4 linked regions of the Homo sapiens genome follow. The protein of the gene in region 3 purifies or fractionates together with the protein of the main gene of each other region. This does not show direct contact. Each region holds a gene or a part of one and is shown on either strand. Other genes may lie near its edges. The genes, in order: ZMPSTE24, PXMP2, SLC18A1 and SFXN5.

The links.
Region 1: the proteins of SLC18A1 (region 3) and ZMPSTE24 purify together in Homo sapiens (affinity purification with mass spectrometry; 2 studies listed by BioGRID and IntAct, with this or other methods). This does not show direct contact.
Region 2: the proteins of SLC18A1 (region 3) and PXMP2 purify together in Homo sapiens (affinity purification with mass spectrometry; 3 studies listed by BioGRID and IntAct, with this or other methods). This does not show direct contact.
Region 4: the proteins of SLC18A1 (region 3) and SFXN5 purify together in Homo sapiens (affinity purification with mass spectrometry; 4 studies listed by BioGRID and IntAct, with this or other methods). This does not show direct contact.

The regions. Positions count from the first base shown.
Region 1 is NC_000001.11:40,253,840-40,261,250, reverse strand, and holds the start of ZMPSTE24 (CAAX prenyl protease 1 homolog), read right to left. Parts: upstream 3,016-7,411; 5' UTR 2,980-3,015; coding exon 2,857-2,979; intron 413-2,856; coding exon 266-412; intron 1-265. UniProt on the Homo sapiens protein: Transmembrane metalloprotease whose catalytic activity is critical for processing lamin A/LMNA on the inner nuclear membrane and clearing clogged translocons on the endoplasmic reticulum.
Region 2 is NC_000012.12:132,697,575-132,704,599, reverse strand, and holds part of PXMP2 (peroxisomal membrane protein 2), read right to left. Parts: intron 3,351-7,025; coding exon 3,231-3,350; intron 1-3,230. UniProt on the Homo sapiens protein: Seems to be involved in pore-forming activity and may contribute to the unspecific permeability of the peroxisomal membrane.
Region 3 is NC_000008.11:20,166,119-20,173,143, reverse strand, and holds part of SLC18A1 (chromaffin granule amine transporter), read left to right. Parts: intron 1-15; coding exon 16-108; intron 109-1,649; coding exon 1,650-1,739; intron 1,740-1,997; coding exon 1,998-2,041; intron 2,042-7,025.
Region 4 is NC_000002.12:72,998,695-73,005,719, forward strand, and holds part of SFXN5 (sideroflexin-5), read right to left. Parts: exon of another isoform or gene 5,697-7,025; intron 2,885-5,696; coding exon 2,831-2,884; intron 1,794-2,830; coding exon 1,737-1,793; intron 321-1,736; coding exon 255-320; intron 1-254. UniProt on the Homo sapiens protein: Mitochondrial amino-acid transporter. Transports citrate. Does not act as a serine transporter: not able to mediate transport of serine into mitochondria.

The sequences.
Region 1 (7,411 bases), on a different chromosome or scaffold from region 3:
TAGAAGACATGACATCTCAGCTGGATCCTAATGGAAGAGGATCTTTTTCCTACCTGGCTTCAGGGTAATAGTTCCCATATTCTATAGTTTTCAACTGACTAAGCAGTTATGTTTCTGTCTTTTTTGCTCCACAGCCGTTACTATCAATAACAAAGGTTAAGAAAGCATTCTGGGACTTGTAAGTGTGGTACCCTCTTTTGTGTTACAAAAATATGAAAATGAAAACAACCAGACAGACTGTCTCTCCAAGAAGTAAATTACTCACAGTGCCTTCAGTCTCTGAATAGAGTCCTGACCAGAAGCTGAAAGTGCTTTTATCCAGTTGATAGAGTCGAGATTTCTCAAATGTTTCAGAATCCATGATCTGTCCTAACTCCGGTGGTACATGAGTTGTTGTTTTATATATCCTTCTCTGAAATATTTTAAAGAAAACACTTTAGTGAAATAGTTGTTTATTACAATAGTCATTTATGATCAAACATCGAATGGTTTATAGCTTGCCACTTATATCTGTTGAATTTGCTTTATACCTACACAAATATTGCACTTGATCAAGTACATGAAACGACTGATGCAGGAAAATAAAAGCAGAACAAGAGAACCTGAGGTGACCTGACTGGTAAAACTATAATCAGGGTTGTCATCACACTTCAGTTTGTATATGTAAACCAAAGCTGTTAACATCACAACTTTGTTACATGTACTACTCATTCTGGGTATTACATACCTCCTATAATACGGAAAACAAATTCATGCAAAGGAGAAGCACACATGCTAACTGTGAGTATGAACAGATACTGAGGCTGCTCATTAAATTTGGTCCTAAATGCCAGAAACTTGAGGATCACCAGATGGAAACATATCAGGTCTGTGAGAAAAGACCAATTTTCAGCCGGGCACGGTGGGTCACGCCTGTAATCCCAGCAGTTTGGAAGACAGGGGCAGAAGGATTCCTTGAGCCCAGGAGTTCAAGACTGGCCTGAGCAATGTGGTGAAATCCCGTCTCTACAAAAAATACAAAAATTAGCAGAGTGTGGTGGTATGCACCTGTGGTCCCAGCTATTTGGGGGGCTGAGGTGGGAGGATCACTTGAGCCTGGGAGGCAGAGGTTGCAGTAAGCCCATATTGTGCCACAGCACTACACCCTGGGTGACAGAGAATCTATCTCCTTAAAAAAAAAAAAAAAAAAAAAAAAGGAGAAAGATCAACTATCTCATTATACTAAATTATAAAAGGTAAGGGTAATTTCAGTCCAGGAAATGTAATACAGAGAATGGATACCAAACAAAATAATGGGCCACTACAACATGCTTTCCCTATATATTGTTGTGTGCCAATAAAAGCTGAGGGGAGATCGAGCACGGTGGCTCATGCCTGTAATCCCAGCCCTTTGGGAGGTGGAGGCGGCAAGATGACTTGAGTCCAGGAACTCCAGACCACCCCGGGCAACATCTCTACAAAAAAATCAAACAATTAGCCAGGCACAGTGATCCGCACCTGTGGTCCTAGCAACTCAGAAGGCTGAGGTGGAGGTGGAGGGGTCGTTTGAGCCCACGAGTTCGAGGCTGCCTTGAGCTATGATGATGCTACTGTGCTCCAGTCTGGGTGGCAGAGTGAGCCCCTGTCTCTAAATACAATAAATATTCTATCCTGGCCAAGATGGTGAAACCCCGTCTCTACTAAAAATACTAAAATTAGCTGGGCGTGGTGGCACGTGCCTGTAATCCTAGCTACTCGGGATGCTGAGGCAGGAGAATCATTTGAACATCCCTCCCTCTGCGCGCTGCTGGCAGTGTCACAGACACACTCTTCCCCTTGCAGACTCTCCCTCGTCCCTCCTAGTTTCTTGCAGTGAGCCGAGATAACGCCACTGTACTCCAGCCTGGTGACAGAGCTAGACTCTAAAATTAAATAAATAAATAAAGATTAAAAATAAATAAATAAAAGTTCAGATCTCTAAACCATGGTTATCTCAGGTAAATTGTTAACTTTCACTTTTTATTTTACCATTTTAATATTTAAACTAAAATAATGTTGATTTTATGAAAAACGAGAAATATATTTCATTTAATTTCATTTATTTATTTATTTTGAGATTGAGTTTCACTCTTGTCGCCCAGGCTGGAGTGCAGTGGCACAATCTCAGCTCACTGCAACCTCCGCCTACTGGGTTCAAATGATTCTCCTGCCTCAGCCTCCCAAGTAGCTGGGACTACAGGTGCGCGCCACCACACCCGGCTAATTTTTCTATTTTTAGTAGAGACGGGTTTTCGCCACGTTGGTCAGGCTGGTCTCGAACTCCTGACCCCAGGTGATCCGCCCGCCTCGGCCTCCCAAAGTGCTGGGATTACAGGCATGAGACACCACGCCGGGCCCGATAAGTTTTTTGTTTGTTTGTTTGTTTTTTCAAGCAGAAACAATATATGCACTTTAAGGAGAAACAAGAGTGCAAGTTCTTGGAAGGACTGCAAAATCCTATGGTTAGGCATGATTACATAAATGTCATGAGGAAGTTGGGTGTCTAAATCCTTTTAAAGGCTTATTCCAAAGATAAAGGAGGCCAAGTCTGGGCCCAAGGATCCCAAGGAAGCTGCAGGGAGGGCACAAGAGCCCAAGCCTTCCTCCAGGCCCTAAAGGGATTGGGTCCCATGATAACGTTACAGAAAACTTCCTTGACGCACCAAGACCCTCCTCAAAGCCACAGTCCGCCATCGGGCCAAGTTACGAGACTCAGCAGGGACCACAAAGACGAGACTGGCGCGGGGACCGAAGCAATCAAGAGTCTCAGGGTCGAAGCCAAGGCTACTCCAGGGCTGGCCGGGTATGGGGGTCAGGTTGGACCCTGTCTAGGCTCACCTGCCGCTGTGCTAGGAAGGTCTCCCAAAGATACACTGTCCAGGAAAAGAGCAGCACGGCCCCGAAGATACGCTTCTCGGCCGGCATCTCCCACAAAGCGTCCAGCGATGCCCACATCCCCATGGCCACCCGGTTCCGCCGGCTCCTTCAGCGTGCACCGGTGCCACACCGACACTCGTCCCTTCAGAGCGTCCCCGCGGTGTCACAGCAATATCCGTTCTTTCCGAGGGCCCCTACGCCGATACCCGCCCCCATCCCTCCCTCTGCGCGCTGCTGGCAGTGTCACAGACACACTCTTCCCCTTGCAGACTCTCCCTAGTCCCTCCTAGTTTCTACAGGAAAAGCCCCAGCCCCACCTTCCTCACTTCCGGCCCAAAGAGGGCGGGGACCCAAACGCCGAGTTCCGGGCCCGGCTGAGCTGTGTTGCATCAACATTCTTCCCCCACGTCTTGACGCTGGGTTCCGGCCTAGGGTTCTGGCTTTCCTCCTGGGCTAGTGAACGCGGCGAAGTCCTCCTCTTTCTAATCTCCAGAGCCGCAGTTCCATCCTCTGGGTCAGCGGCTTACCCTGACTGGGCTGCGGTATCTGCCTTCCTTCCCCCAACAAGGCGACAGGTAGTCGGGGCTGGGGCCGGAACTGACTGAGTGGGCCGCAACTGACTGAGTGGGCCGCGGCTCCCGCCTGAGGAGGCTAGGAAGGACTGAACAGCAGCCGACTTCCCAGGCTCTAAAAATCGTGCCTCTGAGTTAGAGCTACCTCAAAAGCAAGACCAAGCATGAGAAATGGAGTCTTTTGGCCAGTATTGGGGTGTTCGGAATTCAAGCGTATGAGAGAGTGGACGGTAGCGTTGAGAATTTTCATTTGAAGATCTCGTCTTAACCACCCCAAGTGTAGTCAGAGGCGGCGTTTTCCCTGCGAGAGTGCCCTGGAACAAAGCAAGGATAGCGTGGGTTAGACATACCTGAAATGAAAGCGTCTTACTTTATCTAGGTACATATTTGCGTCAGTAAGGCGCAACGCCATTTCTCTCTTGGAATTCAGAAGTGAAATATGGTGACTGGGACGCCTGTACATTGCTTTGACTTAAAAATTGAAGTCCATTATTCTGACCGAAAGTTAATCTGATGATTAATTGGTTAAACATACTATCGTTGCTAATTAGCATAATTATTATTTACAATAAAGTGAGCTAAATAGCTACAACTAAAATATATTTAAATTACTGTGATATTGTGATGCTAAAGATGTGTTGAAATTAATATCTTGAATTTCTCAACCCTGCCTAAATGCCTCTGAGAGTAATTAGTATAATTAAAAGTCACTAGAGAAAGTGAATGACTCTAATAACAGGATAACAAATTCTTTTCAAGTCAGATGGTTTCCAGTTCTTTGCTTTCAACAAAATTAATGGTGGCCCATGAATTGTCAGCTGATGAAGGAACACTATTTGGTTTTTGGCATGCAACTCGGAAAGAAACCAAACGATTGATTGACATGCTTACAACAAAACTACTAGCATTCTCACCTATTTATGTAAAACCATTTCTCAGCACTTGTATCTGTGAAAACAACAGAATTGAAAATGAACCCTGTTAATCTACCAGTAGGAACTATTCATCCAGATAAATGAATTAATTGGTGGGTCAGCCCCATCTATCTCACTAAGAGATGTGTTCCCAATAGAATTTCACCTTTTATAACTGTGTGTTATCAATATTTGCAATCGTGTCATTTTGATCCATTATATACTAAAGATGATTGTGATGATTACTCACTTCAGAAGAATTCCAGCGTAGAGCCATAAAGTTACACGAAATTTTTTAAGGTTTACTACATATGTCATATTTTTATTGCGAAGAAGTGATCAAGAAAAGGTTGTTCAAACATCAAAGTACTATATTTGAATAACATTTTTTGTTAGAGTACAATCTAAATATGTTAGAGATAATAAAAGAACAATGTTGAAGAGCTCATTAGTGTATGTTTTAATGCATAATGGTGGTTATTCAGTTGTTATGTAGATTCTCTTGGATACATTATAAAGAGTGATTTAACAGTTTTATCTTAAAATGTCAGTATTTACAATTTGCAAGAATTTACATCCATTGCAACTATTTGAATTTATGATGGAACCAGTTAGATACCAACTTAAATATATAAGGGGTAAACACTTTTTCAAAATTTTCTCTCCCTCAGGCCATCATTGCTATGCCCTCTTCACTCTTGACTTCAGCTGTCTGTGAGTCCAAAGCCTCACAGGAGCTTCTACCACCCAAGCTTTGTGGCTAAGGGCACAGGTTTAGAGTCAAGCTGCTTGATTGCCAGCCACGGCCGCACCATGTATTAGCACGTTCTTTAATCTGTGCATCAGATCCTCATCAGTAAAATGAGAATAACATAGTATGTACTTACTTTCTCATACTGTTAGGATCAAATGAGAAAATTCATGTAAAGCTCCTAGCAATGTAGATGGCCCTGAGTGCCCAATAAAGGTTAGCTACTGCTTGGGAGAGGGGCATCATAGCATTGATCTGTCACCATGTGTCTGAAGAGATAGGAGAGTAGGAGGCCGAGGTGTCAAAAAGCCAAGACTGACTGGAATTCATTCATTCAATAAATACTGAATGTCTGCGAAATGCCAGACGCATTTCCAGGTGCCAGGGATATAGCAGTGAACCAAAGCCCCTCTCCTGGAGCTTACATTCTTAGCTGGGGTGGATGCAGTGTTTGATAAATAATAAGCAAATATTTAATAGTAAAAGTGGAAGTGGTGATAAGTGCTATGAAGAAAAAGCAGCAAAAAGGCAATACAGCATGTTGGTGTGAGGGATGCTGCTTTACATAAGTTGGTCAAGGAAGCCTTCTCAGATTAACTGGCATTTGAGTCCCCCAAAAAAAGTAAGAGAACAAGCTGTGTGGATATCTGAGGAAATTGCCAGTCAGAGTGAAGAGCAAGTGCAAAGGCCCTGAGATTGGCCAATGCTTATCATATCTGAGGAATGGCAAGAGGCTGTGGAAAGAGTAAGGAAGAGGGGGAGTGCAGATCCATGCCATCATGCAGTCTTTTAGTTAAAAGACTTTTACTTAGAATGAAAGAATAAGCCATTGCAGGATTTTGAGCAGAGCATTGCAGAGTTTTGAGCAGACAATCCTTCTCATTACAACGTGGAGAATAAATTTAATGGGGAATGGAAGGAGGGAGTGCAGTTAGGAGGCCATTTCAAGAATCCAGGTGATTTAGCAGTTGCCAAGGATATCAGAAAAAAAGAAAAAAGAATCCAGGTGAGAGATGGTAGTGCAGACTAATGTGGTGGCAGTGGAGAACTAGTGAATTATGGAAAGTGAATAATCACTTGTTTCTCTTTTCAGAAAGACAGTACTAATAGAAGGGCTGGCCTGTGTGGAGTCTAAAAATGGGAACCTCAAAACAGGCTGTTGGCAGGATTTTGCTAAAGGAGAAAGACTGGCAGGGTGTGCTGGCTCACACCTGTAATCTCAGTTCTTTGGGAGGCCAAGGTGGGATAATTGCTTGAGTGCAGGAGTTCGAGACCAGCCTAGGCAACACAGTGAGACTTCATCTCTATAAAAATAAATAAAATGACTGAATTTGAAAGATAAAGATTATTATCCCTAGAGTGATAGACATTGCTGTAGGGTAGTCCATCTACCCTGTCTAACCTAAATCATAGAGTTGCTCTCAAGCTTTTTCCCTATCTTGCCTTGATTCTCTGCTTACCAAGCATTCAAGGTCCCTTAATTGAAACTCTGGCCATAAGTGCTCTGGCCTCAAGAAAAGAATGATCCCCCTTGGCTGGGCGCAGTGGCTTACGCCCGTAATCCTAGCATTTTGGGAGGCCGAGGTGGGTGGATCACTTGAGGCCAGGAGTTTGAAACCAGCCTGGCCAACATGGCGAAACCCCATCTCTACTAAAAATACAAAAAAAAAAACAAAAGACAAAAAACCAGGCATGGTGGTGGACGCGTATAATCTGGAGGCTGAGGCAGGAGAATCGCTTGAACCCGGAAGGCGGAGGTTGCAGTGAGCGGAGATCACACCACTGCACTCCAGCCTGGGTACCCTTACAAGAGCAGCTGTTATTTCTTTTGCATCTAGCTCATTCTACTTTCTAGCTCATACGTTCTGTCTCTCATATAGGCTACTAATTCTGTGTTACTCCCTGTTAAAAAAGAACAAAAACAAAAACCCTGTAATGGTCCATTTATGATAGTATAAAGCCCAACCTATATATGGTATATATGGTATGACCTTCGAGGTCCTTCATTACCTGACATCAGTCTACTCTTCAAAACTCTTCTTTTTTGGCCGGGCGCGGTGGCTCACGGCTGTAATTCCAGCACTTTGGGAGGCCGAGGCGGGTGGATCATGAGGTCAGGAGATCGAGACCATCCTGGCTAACACGGTGAAACCCTGTCTCTACTAAAAATACAAAAAATTAGCCAGGCGTGGTGGCGGGTGCCTGTAGTCCCAGCTACTTGGGAGGCTGAGGCAGGAGAATGGCATGAACCCGGGAGGCTGAAGTTGCAGCGAGACAAG
Region 2 (7,025 bases), on a different chromosome or scaffold from region 3:
AACAGGCCACGGTCAGCGGGAGGCCGTGGCCAGTTATCCAGCCTCAGTCACCCAGTTCATTTGTTTACCCGTTTGTTGGTCAGCTGGTCCAACCACCCATCCATTACTGCATTTACTGAGCCTTTGTTCGTACCAAACGCTGTGCTAGGCCCCTAGCAGAGAGGAGTGGAGAAGAAAAACGGTCCCCTAGTTACAGTGTTCACAGGCTACAGCGGCCCAGGAATCCCAAAGCCAAGTCACTCTCCTTTTGCCCCCTTCACCGCACACCTTAGCTCCTGGTTCAGCCTCTCTCACTCCAGGACCAGCCATCATGCAGGTGGCTGCACCCTCCTCAGGGGACACAGCTGACGAACAGCGGAGGGGCCCCAGACCTTCCCTCCTCTAACCCATCACCATCCCACTGCCCTGCTTTGGTGACTCAGCAGCTTCACCCTTCCCCAGAATCCTCTGGCCCAGTGCTGAGTCTCTCCCTGGCACGTGGTGCTATGAAAGTAGCAGCCCATGTGTCTGGTTAATCGCCGCGTCTCCGAGTCTAGCAGCATGGCGCACAGTCACTGCTCAGGAAACGCTTGCTGAATGAATGCTGCTTCCGCATACACCTGCACCCACCTAGGATGGCGACTCTGCCCCCACGCTACTCAGAGGCGCGGCTTCCCAGCTCTCCCCTCTTCCATCCCAGATCCTCCGTGTTCCCGGCCAGTCTGTCTTCTCAGTTGTCTCTGCTTCCTTCTCTAAATTCCCGAGAACCAGTGGCCCATGGCTGTAGCTTCCTTAGCCTACTGTTCTTCAGTCACACTCCCTGGAAAATCCTTTATCCTTCCTGCCTTCTCACTTCCCCAGATGCTGACCACAGCTGGACAAGCCCCAGCCCCCTCTGCCCAGAGGTCTTTGTCTCTGCAGTCAGCATGCTCTCCCATCCTCCACATGGCCAAACTTGCCCCTCCTGTATCCCCTTAAAATGCCCGCCTGACTTCCTCTGCCCTCAGTCCCAGCCCCTGGCCCTCCAGAGAGGCACGTGGGGGCTTGAGGCAGGATGTCCCACTCTCCTGTCCGCTCAGCTGTCACTTTCTCTCTCCTCTCTCATCACAGAGGGCAGGGCCTCTGTCCAAGCACCACTGTGAGTGTGCTGGGGGCTCACATCCACCCTGACTCCTTAGGGGACCCCGCAGAGCTGCTCTTTCTGGACATGCGTGTTTGCCCATCCCACAAGCAGCTTCACGTCTGCACCCACCATGGCCGCATCTCTGAGTGTCAGAACCCCCTCTGCCACCCAGCCTTCTTCCATCACTTCTCACCTTCTCTCAAACTTTTTAAAATTCATTTTTATAAAATAGAGATGGGGTCTCACTATGTTGCCCAGACTGGTCTCAAACTCCTGGCTTTGAGTGATCCTTCTGCCTCAGCCTCTCAAAGTTCTGGGATTACAGGCATGAGCCACCATGCCTGGCCCCCACAGACTTTGAGAGCATGTTCTAGACTTGTGATTTTTAAAATAATTCCCACCCACTCTTCAAGGCAATCTGGCTTCAGCCCCATAGAGCTGAAATTGCTCTGGGAAGGGCCACTGTTAAAGCCAAAGGAAATTTTTTTATTTTGCTTTAACTCCTGGCAACTTTGGCTAAGGGTGAACTGCCTCTTTGTCCTGTCTGTGTGCACCCCTGGTTTCCTGCTGCTTCTTGGTGTGTTTGTGGTGTGTGCAGTGTGCACACACTGGGCCGCCTCCCTCCTCTCCCTCGGGGGTCACCCTGGTCCTTTCCTCCCTCCTGGGCAGGGCTCAGAGCCGGTGCTAATGCAGGAAGGCCCTCTGCAGCTGAGGTCCAGCCACTGCAGGCCTGTTCAGGTCCTCCCTAGCAGCAGCCTGGGCTGGGACGGCACCCACCTTTCCCAGAAGGGCCACCTGCCCTGTGCCTGGACTGTTTGCACCAACAATGCAGGCTCCACACAGCTGCTGTCTTTCTAGGGGTCTGGAGCTTTGGGGCAGCAGGCAGAGATGCCCGCCCAGAGTACCAGTAAAAAACCCTGATGGGCGGCATACCTTCTGGGGGAGGGAAGCACGTGGCCCCTGCAGGCTCTGCCAGGCCTCCTCCTGTAGCATCTGGGGGTATCCTGCCATGCTGCAGGGGGTGCTGCACCCCATCCTCCCAGTGTGGGAGTGGTCCTGGGGACCCTGGCTGTGCATAAAGACAGTTGATCCCAGTGGCAGAGCCTGGAGCTCCAGCCTCCACACCACCAGCCCAGCCCCAATCTGACACCTTTGACTCAGCCCCCACAGCAGCTCCTTCATGCACAGGATAGCGGAAAGGCTCAGCTTACCCAGAAGGCCTTCACTCTGCACCTGGATGGGCCCACCCCTTGCCCAGGTGTGGCTGCCATGGCTGCAGGTGAGGCAGCTCTTCCAGGCCAGCGGCAGGACCCATGGCCGCACAGTGCCTGCCTTCAGGCTCAGCTGTAATTCATGAGCCCAGGGACCACGAATGCTTTGTTTCTTTTTAACATTTTATTTATTTTTTGAGACAGGGTCTTACTCTGTTGCCCAGGCTAGAGTGCAGTGGCACAATCTCAGCTCACTCCAACCTCCGTCTCCCGGATTCAAGTGATTCTTGTGCCTCAGCCACCTGAGTAGCTGGGACTACAGGCACCTGCCACCATGCCTGGCTAATTTTTGTATTTTTAGTAGAGATGGGGTTTCGCTATGTTGGCCAGGCTGGTCTCGAACTCCTGGCTTCAAGTGATTTGCCCACCTCAGCCTTCCATAGTGATGGGATTACAGGTGTGAGCTACTGTGACGGCCTTCTTTTTCTAAGTATAACTAGAGTTTATTTGGGCCAAGTTTGAGGACTGCAACCCAGGAGCATAGATTCAAGTTGCCTGCATGTACATTCCTGGGACTGGGAATGTTTCAAAGGCTAGAAAACTCATAGGCATCCCTGGCATGGGGGCTTTTAATGAGAATTTGCTGAACGAACAGAAGAGGCAAAGACGACCACTCGGGACACCCTTCTCTGTTGCTTCCTGAATCCCGAACTAGCAATGATTCAGGGTCATGGGCAAAATCCAAGGGTAGTTGAGGAGTCTAGACACGGATGAAACTAAGTCTAGCGGAAAACTACCAAAGAAAGAAGAGAAGAGAAAAGAAGAGGGGAGGGAGGGGGGGAGGAAAGAGGAAGGAAGGAAGGAAGGAAAAGGCTGACAAAGTAATGTTAGCAGAGGCTGAGCCCCGTGGCCCTCACCTTCAGAGGGACGTAGTTGATGTTGATGAACTGTAGTGGCGTCCACACCCGCCAGTTCATCCTCAGCGCCGGCCAGAAGCCCCCCCTCATCTTGGCGGCGAAGGCTGAGGCGTCTTTCCCCTGCAAAGGAGGGAAGGCGGGTGGTGAACAGTCTCACTGCCCATCAGAACTGAATTCCGGGCACCCAGACCCTATCGTGATGGTTTTTAAACTGCTATTGGATTTTGTTCTGTGTGTACGCAGACAGCACACATGTGTACTCAGCACTGCGGCTCTAAGGAGCCAACCAGCAAGATGGAAAATGATCAGTGAGATGCCAGACAGCAGCCTGCTCATGCTGGCAGTGATGTCTGTCCTGGCCCAAAACTCCTTGCGGACAACTGGAGGAGGTGACTCCCAAGGCTGGCCCTGGGCACCAGAACTGCTACTCAGAGCTACGCTGTCAATTCCTCCCAAATAACCTCCAAAGTCGATGTCTTTCCAATCAAAACTTGTTAGGAGTTATGAAAAAAAAAAAAAAAGGACTCCAGTAAGTTCATTCTAAATGTCAGCTGGTGGATTCAAGACCTGAACCCAAGACCTGACACCATAAAGATCCTAGGAGCAATTCCTCTGGACGTCCGCCAAGACAAAGAATTTGTGACTAAGTGCTCAAAAGCAAATACAGCAAAACCAAAAACAGACAAACAGGACTTCATTAAACAAAAAAGCTTCTGCACAGCAAAAGAAACAATCAACAGACAGTCTACAGCCTGGGAAAAAATATATGCATATTATGCATCCTACAAAGGACTGTTATCCAGAATCTGTGAGGAACTTACACAACTCAACAAGAAAGAAATGAATAACCTCATTAAAAAAGTGGGCAACGGATACAAACATTTTTCAAAAGAAGAAAAACAAGTGGCCAAGAAACATATGAAAAAATGTTCAACATCACTAATCATCAGAGAAATGCAAATTAAAACCACAAGGAGATACCACCTCACGCGAGTCAGAATGGCTATTATTAAAAAGTCAAGTGGCCAGGCGCGGTGGCTCATGACCGTAATTTAAGCACTTTGGGAGGCTGAGGTGGGCGGATCACGAGGTCAGCAGTTTGAGACCAGCCTGACCAACATGGGAAAACCCTGTCTCTACCAAAAAAAAAAAATACAAAAATTAGTTGGGCATGGTGGCGTGTGCCTGTAATCCCAGCTACTCAGGAGGCTGAGGCAGGAGAATCACTTGAACCCGGGAGGCGGAGGTTGCGGTGAGCCGAGATCGTGCCACTGCACTCCAGCCTGGCTGACACAGTGAAACTCTGCCTCAAAAAAAAAAAAAAAAAGGTCAAAAAACAATAGATGCTGGCAAGAATGTGGAGAAAAGTGAACACTTACACACTGCTGGTGGGAATGCAAATTAGTACAGCCCTTCTGGAAAACAGTATGGAAATTTCTCAAAGACCTGAAAATAGAACCACCATTCGATCCAGCAATCCCACTACTGGGCCTCTACCCAAAGGAAAAGGAATCATATCAAACAATCCCTGCCCTCGTGTGTTTATCACAGCGCTATCCACAACAGCAAACACGTGGAATCAACCTAAACGTCCCCCAACAGAGGACTGGATAAAGAAAAAGTGCCATAAATACACCACGGAACACTACTCTGCTATAAAAAAAAGAATGAACTCGGCCGCGCACGGTGGCTCACGCCTGTAATCTCAGCACTTTGGGAGGCTGAGGCAGGAAAATCGTTGAACCTGGGGGGCGGAGGTTGCAGTGAGATGAGATTGCGCCACTACACTCCAGCCTGGATGAAAGAGCGAGACTCTGTGTCAAAAAAAAAAAAAAAAAAAAAAGCATGTCTTTTGCAGTGACGTCGATTGAACCGGGGGCCATTATCCCAAGTGAAACAACTCACCAATGGAAAGTCAAACACTGCATGTTCTCACTTTTTTTTTCCAAGACAGGGTCTCGCCATCTCACTCTGTTGCCCATGCTGGCTGGAGTGCAGTGGCGTGATGTCGGCTCACTTGGCCTCAACCTCCTGACATCAAGCCTCCGTCTCAGCCTCCTGAGTAGCTGGGACTACAGCCATGTGCCACCACAACCCTTTGATTTTTAATTTTTTTGTAGAGAAGGGGTCTCACTCTGTTGCCCAGGCTGGTCTCGACATCCTGGGTTCAAGTGACCTTCCTGCCTCAGCCGATGTTCTCACTCATAAGTGGTGGCTAAACAGTGGGTATACATGGACCAACAGAGGGAAATAACAGACACCAGAGACTTGAAAAGGTGGCGGGGAGAAGAGGGTTGAAAATCACCACTGACTACTTGGGTGATGGGAAGTAAAAGCTCAGACTTCACCACAGCACAGTCACATAAGAAATCTGCACTCGTACCCTCTAAATATATACAAACTAAAAAAAATTTTTAAAGAAATGCTTAAATATTTTCTTGTTTAAAGTAAGGGGGAGAAGCTGGGTACAGTGGCTCATGCCTGTAATGCCAAGGTGGGCATATCACTTGAGGCCAGGAGTTCAAGACCAGCCTGGCCAACACAGAGGAACCCCATTGCTACTAAAAATACAAAAATTAGCCAGGCGTGGTGGTGGGCGCCTGTTGTCCCAGCTACTCTGGAGGCTGAGACATGAAAATCACTTGAACCCGAGAGGCGGAGGTTGCAGTGAGCCGATATTGTGCCACCACACTCCAGCCTGGGCGAGAGTGAGACTCCATCTCAAAAAAAAGAAAATAATCCAGCAAAAGAACAAAGAGTGCAGATAATTGCCTGTACAGATGGAAATGAGAATATTTCAAAATACTGGGGATTGCCCAATAAATGGTAATGAGAAAATTTGCTATGTAAGTGGAAAAATCAACACAGAAGTCTATCTCCTACTGTACACAAGTAAAACCATAAGAATACCGGAGGAAAGCAGAGGAGAATATTTCTATTATCTTCCTGTAAGGAAAGGCATGAAGGAGAATAATGTCATGTTTGAATACATGAACCTTTATAACTTCTGTATGGAGAAGTGAATGGTTAAAACAAATTTACTTTCAGGACAGAAGGTGACGCCAGGTGCAGTGGCTCACACCTGTAATCCTAGCACTTTGAGAGACCGAGGCGGGTGGATCACGAGGTCAGGAGTTCAATACCAACCTGGCCAAGATGGTGAAACCCCGTCTCTACTAAAAACACAAAACAATTAGCCGGGCATGGTGGCGGGCACCTGCAATCCCAGCTATTTGGGAGGCTGAGGCAGAGAATTGCTTGAACCCAAGAGGCGAAGGTTGCAGTGAGCTGAGATCACGCACTACACTCCAGCCTGGGCAACAGTGTGAGACTCCGTCTCAAAAAAAAAAAAAAAAAGGTGACACGTCTCAGACACACAGCACAACCTGGCTGGTGCTCCTAGAGATGGTGAGGATTTGAAGGTGCTCGTGAACGGGGGAGGTGGGACAGTCAGAACAGACACACCTGCTGAGTGCAGGTGAACACGCCTCCCATGCGTTGGATTCTGACTGGGATTATGCCGGTAGGTTAACCTCCAGGCCCGGAACTCTTCTGTGTTATCAGTAGGGGTCTCAAACTTCTTGTGCCACAGATCTCTTTGGCAGTTTAGTGAAGCCTGTGGACCCCCTTCTCAGAATGTTTTGTAATCTATAAAATAAAATACGGCTGGGCGCAGTGGCTCACGCTTGTAATCCCAGCACTTTGGGAGGCCAAGGCAGGCGGATCACGAGGTCAGGAGTTCAAGACAAGCCTGGCCAACATGGTGAAACCCCATCTCTACTAAAAATACAAAAA
Region 3 (7,025 bases):
TAACTCTCTGCGCAGGTCTTGGAATGCTGGCCAGTGTCTACACTGATGACCATGAGAGAGGACGAGCCATGGGAACTGCTCTGGGGGGCCTGGCCTTGGGGTTGCTGGGTAAGTGGCACCAGCTGGAGCTCTGGGTTCGGGAGGGTGGGACTCTAGGAAGCAGGTGTTCCCGAGGTGTAGAAGACGAGTATTTTCCTTCCCTTGTTGGCCTCATCCTATTTCAACTCCTTTAGAAATATCACTGAGAAAAGGTTAAATTTCCTTCTCCTTAAGAAGCTGGGAAACACATAAACGTCGGAGAAAGGTCCGGAAGCCCAGCCTGTTGGAGGAAGTGAGCCTCCCCGATTTAGAGGCCACTGCTTCGCCTCGGTTCCCATGCACACAGCACCAGAGCATGGCTGCTGCCAGATGCTCTGCTAAATCTGTTACACGCATAATCTCTTTTATTCCTCACCACCAGGAATGAAAGGAGGAATGATTTTCCCCATTATAGAGATGAAAATAAGAATGGCGAAAACACCATCCAACATCACACAGCTAGGAAACGCCACAGCCAGGATACAGACTCCGATTTTCTGGGCTTGGAAACCCAAGCCCCAAACGATAAAACTACCCTTTCTTTGAGGCTCCTCCCTCATACAACTTAATTGACAAGCTACATGCTTTCACTTATTACATGCCAAGCACAGTGCCAGTACTGTAGGGTGGGAAGCCCCAGGCATAGTTCCTGCCCTCTAGGAGCTTACAAGCTCATCGAAAACAAAACACCTGAAATTTCTTCCCCGGCCTATGCCCCACCCTCTAGCCCCATGGGAAGCAGAGGAAACAGAATCCCTGTTATTTGCTAGTATCCATCAACCCAAATGCCCAAGCTAAACCCTGTGCATCTTGAAATCCTTTATCATGTCCCAAATGAATAAGCTCCCAAATGAACAAGCTTGTTAGATCCTCAACAGCCACTCCTGGCTCCTTGTCACTTCTGGGTTAGAATCTGGCAGCATCCTCCCTCTTGTGTACTCCCTCCTTCCACCACGATGCTGCCTGAACAATCTTCCTGAGCCCAGAGCAGGTGATGTTTCTCACCTGATGTTTCTCCATAGGCCGCAAGGCCAAGTACATGACTCATCTGCATATACAAGGTTCCTGCATATGCAAGGCTCTACTTTTCTCCTCGCAAATATTCATACTCTGCTAACACCCGCTTTCTTCTTTTTCTTCTCCAACTACACACTCTTTTCTGACACCTCTGTGTTCTTCACACAAGCTTCTTCCCCTCCAGATACTCTACACTTGGCAAAGCCCTCGTGGCTGCCTGAAATTCCTGAGACATTGACTGTGCTTTCATTGCATGCAACATTTTACTGTCAAACTTTCACCATGCTTTAATTATCTGTGTCCCTCCCTACACACACACACACATACATACACACACGCGCGCGCACACACACACACACACACACACTTCCTCCACTAGAAAGTGGGCTTGATGGGGACAGGGATCATGTCTCCATCTCTGAATTCCCAGAGCCTCAGGTGGAGCTTAGCCCCTAGCAGGCCTTCTGCAAATGCTCACGGGGTAAATATGGATAATTCTCACTGCAAAGGACTCACCCTCACCTCTGGAATCTGTGTCTCCTATGCCTCTCCAGTGGGAGCTCCCTTTGGAAGTGTAATGTACGAGTTTGTTGGGAAGTCTGCACCCTTCCTCATCCTGGCCTTCCTGGCACTACTGGATGGAGGTAAGTCACCATCAGAGCCTCCAGCAGGTGACAGCCCAGGTCAGGTTGGGAATGCATTATGTTGTAGTGTCAGTCTTCACTAAGAATGGGCGGTTTGGACATGTTTTGATGGATCAAGGACTGCCCCGTTGTAGAAAAGAAAGAAGAAACTCAGGGAGTTAAATTTATGCATAATAGGGTGGTAGCACTACAGCTGTTATTGGAGCCCCCAGCTAATCAGTAGACACGCTGAACTGTCTCACCTTCTTTGTTTCTTAGCACTCCAGCTTTGCATCCTACAGCCTTCCAAAGTCTCTCCTGAGGTAAGCAGACACAAAGCTCCATTTCTAACAGTTATACAGGATGGCTGAATGCAGGAACCCAGGCATGCCTGCCAAACCATAAGAAGAAAAGTGAAGAGGAATAGGGTCAGCGAAAGTGAGAACTGTGTTTGGATTCCAGGATAGGGTTACGTTTCAGGTAGTGTGGGGGATAGTGACGTATTTGGCTTGATGTTGGACAAAGATGGTGGAAGAACCTTGTGCATAATCAAAGAAGCCATAGAGAATCTATCTATCTATCTATCTATATATTCGACACATATATGGGGTATGTATATATATATTCATGTATATCTGGAGATCTCCATATATATATATATATGTGCACACACACATGTAATTATAGCTAGGAGATAATGACATTGGGGACTGAGTATTTGGAGCTGTAACATCATCTCAGAGATGAAGGCTGTGGGGGCCACCTAGACAACATCTTCTGCAATAAAAGACATCCTGTGTGAATATCCCTAACTGTCATTCTGTCACAGTTAATAAATATCAGAGTTGGTACTTGTTTGACTCTAAGCCAAAAACAGCTCTGGAAAATCCATATCCCACCACGAAGGAAAAAAAGTAAGAAAGTGCATCAAGTGTAAAAATGTTTGATCTAAAGGCCTTGACTTTGCATTCCACAGCTTGTCAAGGTATTCCGGAAGTCATGACACTAACACCTCATCATTCTTCAGGGCTTTTCACGCACCAGGAGCTCAGCTTAGTGCGCCATCTATGCTGCATCTTACACATTCCATGAAATAAGTACAATTTTTAGCCTCACTCTACAGATAATGAAATCGAGGGTGAACAGAGAAGCATCTGAAAGAATTTGAAACTATGACATAATCAATACTTTTAGAGTGCCAATTCCCCCAGAGCAACTAGGAGCCTCCCGCAGTCTCCTGAGATGCTCTGCTCTTTACAGACTGGCTTTAGGAGTAGGATGTCTGGGTCCTGGAGAGGGAAGTCATAACCACCACCCATCCAGGACTCCTCAGGGCAAGGAGCACCAAATACCCTCTGCACAGGCTCCCAGGCCTGGCATATGCTTGGGCCCAGCACCCCTCCAGCCCTGGCCCAGGCGTAGGGACACTCATCCAGGTGGTTCAGCCACTGTTTATTATTAACTGTGCAGCAGTGGTGAATTACTCAGCAAGTAAATCCAGCTTGAGATTCCAGGAAAGTGAGGCACCCATAAATATCTACTTTTTTGAGACGGAGTCTTGCTCTGTCACCCAGGCTGGAGTACAGTGGGGCGATCTCGGCTCACTGCAACCTCTGCCTCCTAGGTTCAAATGATTCTCCTGTGTCAGCCTCCCAAGTAGCTGGGATTACAAGCACGCACCACCATGCCCAGCTAATTTTTATGTTTTTAGTAGAGACAGGATTTCACCATGTTGGCCAGGCTGGTCTCGAACTCCTGAGCTCAAGTGATCCATCCGCCTCAGCCTCCCAAAGTGCTGGGATTGTAGGCATGAGCCACCGCACCCAGCCCATTCTCTCTCTTTCTAACAAATATACATTATTATTATTATTACTAATGTTTTGAGCCAGTTGACAGTAGATTGATTGTATCGTTCCCTTACCCCTTGATACTTTAGAGCATTTTCCCTAAGAACAGGATTTTTTTTTATGTAATGTCAATGGAGCTATCAAATTCAGGAAATTTAACATGGATATAATACTTTAGTCTAATTTGCCGTGCCTACTCTGATTGTGTCAATTATTCCGATAATGTCTTCCATGGAAGTCTTTTTTTCTCTAATGCAAAGCCCAGTCCATGACTGTGTAAGACATTTATGCATCACACCTCTCTAGCCTCTTTTAATCTGGAAAAGTTCTCAGCCTTTATCTTTCATGACATTGACATTTGTGACAATTATCTATAGGGTATTCCTAAATTTGGTTTGTCTGATGTTTCTTCATGATACCGTAGCCTTCTGAGTTTCATGTCTGGAGGTATTTAATGCCCGTCGCCTCTCAGTGGTGATGTCCATTTTGATCACTGGGTCAAGGTGTTGTCTGGGTCTCTTGTGTAGTAATTACTTCTTCACCTTGTAACTAATATATAACATGTGGGAGATGTTGTAAAGTCATATAAATCTCCTACTCCTCCTTAAATTTCCTTTCTGCCTAGATTTGTTATCCATTGATGATTCTTGACTGACCCAATCTTTACTATAATGTTTACAAAATACTGGTTTTTCTAGTTCACCAATTCATCCAAATCATCAGTTGGCACTTTGCTGTAAGGAATAGCCATTCCTCCAAGGCAGGCGGATCACTTGAGACCAGGAGTTTGAGACCAGCCTGGCCAACATGGCAAAACCCTGTCTCTGCTAAAAGTACAAAAAAATTAGCTGGGCATGGTGGTGCACACCGTAATCCCAGCTACTCAGGAGGCTGAGGCAATAGAATCCCTTGAACCTAGGAGGCGGAGGTTGCAGTAAGCCACTGCACTCCAGCCTGGGTGACAAAGTAAGACTCTGTCTCAAAAAAAATACTCTAAAAAACAAAAAAGCAATAGCCATTCCTTTCTTACTCTCTTTATATGTATATATTTATAAATATTTATACCAAATAGGTATATAATAATTTTATGTACATGTGATTATGTTCACAAAAAACTTAAAAAACATTTATTTATCTGATATTATCAGTGTAGAATCATGGAGTCCTATTTTTGTAGTTCATCACTCTATTTACTTGTTTAATTTTTTTTTGGAGACAGGGCCTCTTTCTGTGACTGAGGCTGGAGTGTAGAGGTGTGATCATGGCTCACTGTAGCCTCCAACTCTTGGGTTCAAGTGACCCTCTTGCCTCAGCTTCTTGAGTAGCTGAGACTACACAGGCATGCCACCACACCCAGCTTAACTTTTTATAGAGACCGGGTCTGCCTGTGTTGCCCAGGCTGGCCTTGAACTCCTGGCCTCCCGTCCTTAATTATTTTGATGCTCAAATTGTCCTAGATTTGACAAGTCAAAGCCCATTAACTTGTTGCTGTGTCATTTTAACATACCTTCATTGTTTTTTGAGTAATGTTTTACTTTTCGATACAAAAATATGTCCTACGTTCATCTTGTACTTTCCCTGCCTCAGCCCTGAATTCATTTCCCCAAGGAGCCCAGGTTCTTGTTAGTAGGGAATGGTGTTTAGAAACCAAACTATGGGGCCGGGCACGGTGGTTCACGCCTGTAATCCCAGCAGTTTGGGAGGCCGAGGCAGGCGGATCATGAGGTCAGGAGATTGAGACCATCCTGGCTAACACAGTGAAATCCCGTCTCTACTAAAAATACAAAAAAATGAGCCAGGCGTGGCGGTGGGTGCCTGTAGTCCCAGCTACTCAGGAGGCTGAGGCAGGAGAATGGCATGAACCCAGGAGGAGGAGCTTGCAGTGAGCCAAGATCATGCCACTGCACTCCAGTCTGGGCTACAGAGCAAGACTCTGTCTCAAAAAAACAAAAAAAACAAAAAAAACAAAAAACTATGGGGACTCAATGTGCTCTTTGCCATTGGGGTCACCTTGTTTCCCTGCCATCTTGATGACAGAGCTAATACACACACACAAGTTTGTACTGAGACCTCCACTTCCAGCCCAACTCCACGGGATTTTTCCCTGCTTGCCCCATTCCATACATGTATTCTTCTTTCAAAGTAAGAAATTTGTCTCCCCCTATTATACAAATAGGTGAAACACCTATTTTACAAATAGATTAAAAAATTTACTTACTTGTATAATTCTATAATACTTACCCATGCCATTATAAAAAACAAAGCTACCAAGAAATATTCAAGACTTTTCAGTTCTTTTTCCCTTAGACTTAATGAATATAGCCAAATACTGTATCTAGAAATTACCGTACTTCCATTAGTTCTTTTTTCCACCTTTAGTGTGATTATGTAATGCATGATACATTTGAAATTCATTTGCATCCATTTGTGGGGTTTTTTTTTTTTGGCATTTAGTTTTAGTTTTTTTTCTCCATTCTGGCTAATTATCTTAGTCTGTTCAAGATGCCAGAACAAAATACTACAGATTGGGTAGCTTAAACAACACATATTTATTTTCTCACGACTCTGGAGGCTGAACGTCCATGGTCAAGGTACTGTTGAGGGTTGGTTTCTGGTGAGGCCTCTCTTCCTGGCTTGCAGACAGCCACCTTCTCAGTGCGTCCTCACATGGCCTTTACTCAGTGTGCATGCACAGAGGAAGAGAGCCCTGATGTCCCTTCCTCTTTTTATAAGGAAAACAGTTTTTCAGATTAGAGCCCCCACTCTTATGACCTCATTTAACCTTAATTACCTCCCTGAAGATACTGTCTCCAAACACAGTCATATTAGGTTAGGACTTCAACATACTAATTTGACTAAGGTGGGGGGACTCCATTCAGCCCATAACACTAATATAATTTATTTTTTTAATATATAGGACATTACCACCTAAAAGTCAAAATTATTCCAAAAGGTGTACTCAGAAAGTGTCAATCCCTCCAGTCTTTCTAACCCTCCCCCTCTCCCACCCCTACCACTCATAGGTAACCAATTTTAATGCCTTCTGGTTTGTCTTTCCTGTGTCTTAGTGTTTTTTCCTCAAAATAAATCGCTTATGTGTTTTCTTATTTTTCCCTTTTCTATTATATGAAAGGCAGCACACTATGTATTCTTTTTTTTGCGTTCTCCTTTTTTTCTCAATAATATGTCCTGAAAATTACTCTACTAGTTCACAGAATCTTTCCTTATTATTTTCCACCTGGTGGTGTATATATATATATATATATATATATATATATATATATATATAGACACACACACACCCACACACAATTTTGTATGTGTACACAATAGTGTGTGCGCCATATTTTATTCCATCTCCTATGTTTAGGTAGTTTTCAGTATTTTATAGTTATAAATAGTGCTGTAATTTGCATGACTGCATGTTTATAATGTTGTCATTAATCTTTAGAGTCAATTC
Region 4 (7,025 bases), on a different chromosome or scaffold from region 3:
GATGTCCTGCCTCAGTGCCCCCAGGCACAACCTCACCTCCCCACCTGCTCTCCATTACAGGGAGCACCAGGTTGTGCTCTGTCTACTGGAGCCTCTTCTCGGCTTGGAAAGCCTGTCCTGACTCCTCCACCCACAGAAACCTGTCTCCCAAATCCTTGCCTGGCCTGGCCCTCAGACAAGCATCCACCTGCAATGCTGAGCGGGGTGGCCCCAGAGCAGCAGAGCCAAGAAGGAGCAGGGGAGGGAGTACTCACAGCAATGGAGACGGCGCTGATGACAGCTCCCAGGTATCCCTGGATGAACTTGGATGCAGGTGAAGGCTGGAAAACAGAGGCAGAATTTCAGGCCTGCTGGGTGCCCAAAGCTCCCATACTTCCCCTTGTAAGCTGTCCCAGCCAGCAAGAAGCATCCTGCCCACCAGCCTGGAAAGTGGGTAGAAGGAAGAGGCCCCTCAGGACTCAAAGGGATCAGGCCACCCTCAGCTCAGTTCCCAATGCAGAAATATAAATCACCAGTATCCAGGGAGATACTGAAGGGCCCACTTCACTCCTGCCCTGTTCTAGAAAGGTCACTGGCAGACAGTGCTGGGTGGAGGTGGAGAACAGCAAGGCTAACATGGACCATTGAAGGCTGGGGCAAGCAGTCTTCAGTTTAGAGGCTAAATGTTTCAAGGGGGCCATTTGGCATCTGGAGCGCTTTCTAGGTGGAAATGCCAGTGTCAAGGCTCTCACAGGCCTTGCCAGCCCATGGAACAGCTGGGCTCCCATGTCAACAGATGATAGCTGCCCAATATCTCTAGAGAATAATATACCCCAAGTTCCAACACAGACAATTAAGAAAAAGCTAAGGAACTTGCCCTGTGCTACAACTGCAGGTCTAGAAGTGTCTGGTTTAAGATAAAGGGAGTCATCCAAGCAGAGATGGCCATATGTGAAGCCTATGAGAGAGACTTGGGGTGGAGGTTTAGATGTCAGGGGGCAGCCACAGCATATCAGGCCTCTCAATTCCTATGGCCCAGGCCAGCTCCTATTCCCCTCCTCTCCCCCAAGGTGAGCAAATGTTAGGACTCTCCTCTACCCCAAACTGACAGGCCCCCAAAGGGGACTTAGATGCATCCTGCCTTCTTTGCCTTTGAATTGAAGTTGGGGAGAGGTGGCCTTGCCAGCAAAGCAGGGGCCCAGCAGCCCTTCCTGGACAACAGAAGGGTGACTGGGCCTCCACCACAAGCTCTCCAAGGAGTGCAGGGGCTCTGGGGGGGAGTTACCAGCCCTGGACCCTCCCCACTCAGGAGCAGCCCTTCAGCTTGTGGCCAGCAGTCGGGACCTGGGAGCGCTAAGGCAGCTTCCAGAAATTTTGGAGGAAGCTTTATGGGAATTTTGCCCCCAAGTAGCTGATACCATCATGATCCAAAACCCAAATGTAAGAGCTACCCAAGAAGAATCTGAAAGCCAGCCGAACTCATCCCTTGCACTGCTCCCATTTAATGGGCCTTCTTCACTTCATGTAAACAGCCCCTCCCCAGAGGGCTCCTGGCCCAGAAACTGCAGCTGACCTCAGCTGAGTCATGTCTGAGTCGGCCACCCACCTGAAGGGCTGGCATTTTAAATAAGATATCTAGAGGAGGGCCATGCTTAACCAAGAGGCAGCCACTGATGGTGGCATGTCACGCTGTAGGGAGGATGACTGGGCCTCCCTAGCCTGAACCCCACCACTGGGGAGAGGGCAGTGATGCTCACCTTGGTCGCATTGCGGTTTGCATAGTTGACACAGGCATTGTGGCTCTGGTTCAGCCACTGAAAGGCAATGATGAGAGAAGTCAGGGAAGGAGTGGTCACCTCCCTGGAAGCCAGGCCTGGACCCCAGGAGGCCACACATCCCCAGAAAGGCACAGCATGCGGTCTCCAGCTCACATGGTGCCGCCCATGCTGCCGGTCAGCATGACTGACCGTCCTGGTTTGCCCAGGGCTGTGCTGGTGTTAGCACTGGAAGCCCTGCCTCTCGGGAAGTCTCTCGGTTCCTGAATGGGGTCCTGCGCACCCCAGTAGTCCACCTGATCCTGAGACAGTCACCTCTCTTGGAATGATGGCATTCACTGCCCCTGCAGACCCCACTGCCTTTGTCACACCATCTTTATTATATTACCTGCTGGACAAAAGTTGGCCTAGAATGACTGACAGCCCTACAATTCTTTCAAAAATCTCCCAGTCCAGTATCCTGCACCTCCAGTTCCCAGACACAGAGGCCGGCAGGAGTTTAGTTCAGGGAAGACTGACATTTTCTCCTAGAAGACAGACAGGTTTTCCTTCCTGCCCGTCTTTCTCTGCACACACAAACACAGAGATATCCTCAGTTTTCATGGCATCACAACCCAGACTGTCTCCAAGAGCAGGGACCAGGGTCTGTGATGCACTTCACAACCTCAGGTTAGGGGTGGATTTAGCTTCCTCAGCAGATGTGGGGGAGGCTGATGTCAAAATGAGGCTATGGGCCTCAGGGTCACTGGCCTTGGGATGAGCAGCCAAGGGGCAGAGTGGGGGCCACCCCACTGACAAGCCAGCATGTTCCAGGCAGGGGCACGCAGCCCTCATGACCTCTGTCCAAAGGTTAGAGTGACACATGGTGGATTGAGACATGCTGGGCTGCTGGAGACCTGCTCAGCAGGGCCAAAGTCCTGGTTTTCCTTCAGTGGCTTCTGGGCTAGGGGTGGTGTTGGGGTGGACTGACCCTACACGGGGTCTGGACGGGGCAGGAGACACCACAGCAGGGAGTTCTTAACCAGCACCTGTGTGGGCCCTTCCTTCAGGAGCCCTGTTTGCTGCGAGACTGTTACCTGCCAGAAGACAGTGGATGCCAGTGTCTGGTTGGGCAAGAGAAGACCGACTACCTATGAGCAAGAGAGAAGAAATGCTGAAAAAGGCAGAAGAAACATCCTATGCTTTTGCAAAGAAAAAATACGCTACCACAAATGAGTGAGCTGGATCTGTACAAACTGATGTGGTATGCCGTGTACATACAAACTGAGGTTCATTGAGGGAGAGGCTGTGTGATGGGAAAAAACCAAGTTGCAGAATTATATTACAGCATAATCTTATTTATTTAAAGAAAAATCATTTTATATATAACGATATACACAAACACATGCATACACACATTATCTTCAAGCATGAAAAAACCTGTAGTGTGGATGTCTCTGGAGGTTGGGTTGCAGATTACTTTTGCACAATCTTAAATATTTCTGTATTCTTTTAAACAACAGACATGTATTATTTCCACAATTAGGGGGGCAATAAAAACAAGCAAACAAAAGGAATACCTTCGTTTCCACTCAGGTTACCTGACTGCTCACCCTAGCCTTCCCGTAGGATTTTTGCGAGGATTAAACAAAAATCATTTCAAAGGCCTTAAGTGCTTTGTAAATACAAGTTGGGGGAATTTGTATCTGTTATCTGTGAATTTCCATGAAGCAAAAACCTATACCAGGTTTAAGCAACTGAATGAAACATAGATTTCTAATATTTGTTGAATGAGTGAAGAAAGGAATGAATGAAGAAATGAACAAATATACACATATACACATATGGCTAGGTATGGGAACATGTAGATCCATTATTCCCAAAGCCCAAATATCACCTAAGACCTAGACTTGCTGACCGTGTTTTTGGTTTAAGTCAAGATGAATGGTCTGATTTTGACACTGGCCAAGCCTTGGACTTCAGGGATCCATGTGCATCTCTCCAGTTTACCTTCTGAGTGTTTGTGTGCAAAGTAACATCTACCAAGTCCCACTGCATATGGGAAAAATGTGCACAACCATCCACATATTGACTTATTTATTATTCCTGTAGATAAAATGGCTCTTTGGCAAGAATTTCTGTAAGGAACAAGTATAAACACTCAATAATATGCAGTAAATCAAATTCTAGACATCCCCAGCAGCATTAGTAAATCATGTTTTAAACATTAAAATGTTTTAAAACAGCTAACACACACACACACAATCTATATTTATTGGCTCATATCAGTTTGAATAAAATTATATAATATAAAGCTATTCCATAGCTCCAACGAGGAATTATGAGATTTTTCCCCCAGAATGAGATCCCAACTTGATTTTTTTTTTCTTTGCAGTGGCAGCTTAGGGAATTAGAGTGAGAATCAGGGGAACCTGGGTCTTAGATTCAGCTCCATCCCCATGTGATCTCTGGCAGAAAATGATCCCCTTTGGGGCACTAACTTTCTTAAACTATGAAAGTGAAGGGGCTGACCTCAGTTTAAAATTCTACTTCCAAATTCTGGGTAGTAGGTGTCAAGTCAACAGAGACGGTCTTTTCTGTAATGGGATCCCATCTGCTAAGGAGTATCCCAGGAAACTGAGGACCTCCTCGTAGTTGGGGCCCCCAGTTAGAAGCCAGACCAGAGGGAGGGAGCTGAGCCTAGCGGGGGTGGGGATGGGACAGGGGGGTGGGTGAAGAGTACATGTGCTCCTATGTGTACACGTATGCATGCCTGACTGCCTTCTACCACCGGAGGAAGTTAATAAGGCTGTTCACTGTTTGGAGCCCAGCACGTCATCCCCTGATCTGGAGTCTACTGAACACGGTGTCTTATGGACTACACTGTCTTCTCCTCTGAATCCCCACTTACCCCTCGAACTGTACTTGGACCACCAGGAACATCGTAAGATACAGCCCAATAGCACTCACTGCATTTACCAGACAACTGCTGTCCAGGACACTGCCCGTGACACCACAGGGTTCCCTTTATAATCCTCTTGGGGGAAATATTTTCCAGTCTCAGGGTCAGGAACTGTGCCTCTGAATAACTGGTGTGCATGTGCCTTGCAGACACTGAGCCATTCAACTGAGTCTCTTTGCACCGTCAGAAGCTCAGGCCAGCTCTCCACAGCCCCATCTGCCAAGTGTACAGACCCACACTGCATGGATTCTGTGCCCAAACCTCACTTCTGGCTTCATTTTATCTTCCCTTCCCTAACCTTCCCTTTGTCTCATTTTCATCTTCACTTGATTTATCTTTAGTGGCAAGCATTTTTAAAAGTGACATCAAGTCTTTTCCAGAACAAACCAAACTAGTATTTGGGCTATGTACCACACACATACACACTGCCCATGGCTCTGTGACCAGCAAGCTTTTTACTTTGTTAGACAATCCCCACTTTGCATCCCAACCTCCTACCCTAACATGGGTCTGGAGTCCATGCTGGCACCTCTGACTGCTATGAGTCTCCTCATTCTTTCTTAAAGAGATGGATTGACTGATTTGATTTTGCCACGCATTTCACTTATCATAATCCTCATACTAACCCTGGGGATCAAAGCAGAGATTACTTTTGATATTTTGCAAACGGGACAACTGAGGCTTAGAGAAATTCAGTAATCTGTCCATAGCTTCATAGCAAGCTAGAGAATCAGGTCTCCTGGTTCCTGGCTTGGGGGCCCGGACTCTGATTTTAGGGTACTCCTTCTCCAGCTCATCCCCTTGAGCGCAGAGAGAGGGGAGATCCAATCAGCACTCTGCATCCATTTATGAGGAGCTGCTTCTACGTACCAAGTTCCTTGCTGCTCCCAATGGAGAAAGCCAGAGGAGAGGAATGAGTGCGCGCGCACACACACACACACACACACACACACACACACACACTCCTTAACCACAATAAAAACAAAAACCAGACAAGAAAATGGAGGATGACATCCTTTATAACACCGAGGCTTGAAAATGACAAGATGGTTTAATGAGGTATTTGGTTATGTGTAAAGTTGATAAATTTTAACATCCAAACAGGAGTTTAGGAAGGGAGGGGTGAGTGTGTCCCGGCTATCTAACGAAGGCGGAGGTAGGAGTGAGCCGAGGGGGCGCCGACACAGGAGCAGGGACAGCCGAGACAGCAGAGAGACTGGTCTGACTGCAGAGGAGGTCTGGGAGACCAGAGGGAGTGTGGAGAGGGTGAGGTTAGAAGACAGGAACACCGAGCTGCATCGGCCAAATGGAGCCTTAGGGGGCCATGTGAGGCTGAGGCAGGGAAGCAGGGATCCTGCCCTCCAGGTCCTTACAGTCAGGCGGGGACCAAAAGCACGAGGATGCCAGCCCAATTCCCTATTAGGCAAAACGCAGCACCATCTGCACAATCCCAGGAGCAAGAGCAGATATTTTATAACTTCCTTTTTTCTTTTTAAGTCTAAATTAAAAATAAATGTTCCCTTCAGCTCTCAGATGTATATCTCTGGTGCAACCTGCCCACATTCCCTCCCGCTGCCCTTTCCAGAACATGGCAGGGGAAAGGAAGAAAGAGATGGATAGAGAGAGGGAGCCAGTCCACCCAGCTTCAATGCCAGTGGATTGCACCTCTTCCAAGAGGGAAACGATTCAGGCGTGGCCACGCAGACGGGTGGAGAGCGCCCAGAATGTGGCTGGTACCAAGGAAAGTGGAAGGAGAGGGAAACAGGAGCCAACAGCTATGATTTCTAGCCCAGCCTCCACCCTATCGCGCTGCAGGACCTTGGCCAAATCACACATCCTATCTCTGCTCCCATTTATAGTTCATAACATGGCTGAAGTCCCCTCTGCCGCTCCAGCCCCCTGGCAGCTGTGCTCTCTGCACATCCGTCTGTACCTTTGCTGCTCCCCTTCATTTTGGGTGTCCTACCATGGACCTAGTGATTAACGCTCAGGCTCTGGTTGTCAAATGCTGGTGCCAGCATTTACCAGCTATGTGACCACAGGCAAGTCACTGGAGCTCTTTGTGCCTCTGTTTCTTCACCTGTTAAGTGAAGGACAATCCCAGTACCTCTCAGGATGGTTATGAGAGGAAGTAAGGTGTGGAGGAAATTCGCCTCAGCATGCAGCCTGCAGCAAGCGCTCCCTGGATGCCGGTTGCCAGTGCCATTCTTCTCCTCCCATGTAGTTCTTTCCTGGCCTTTGCTGGTTTCTTTCTCTGAGCTCCATAGTCAGCATTACACCACTGAACATCGTCTCATCTCCATCTCGGGAACACAAGTCTTATCCCTCAG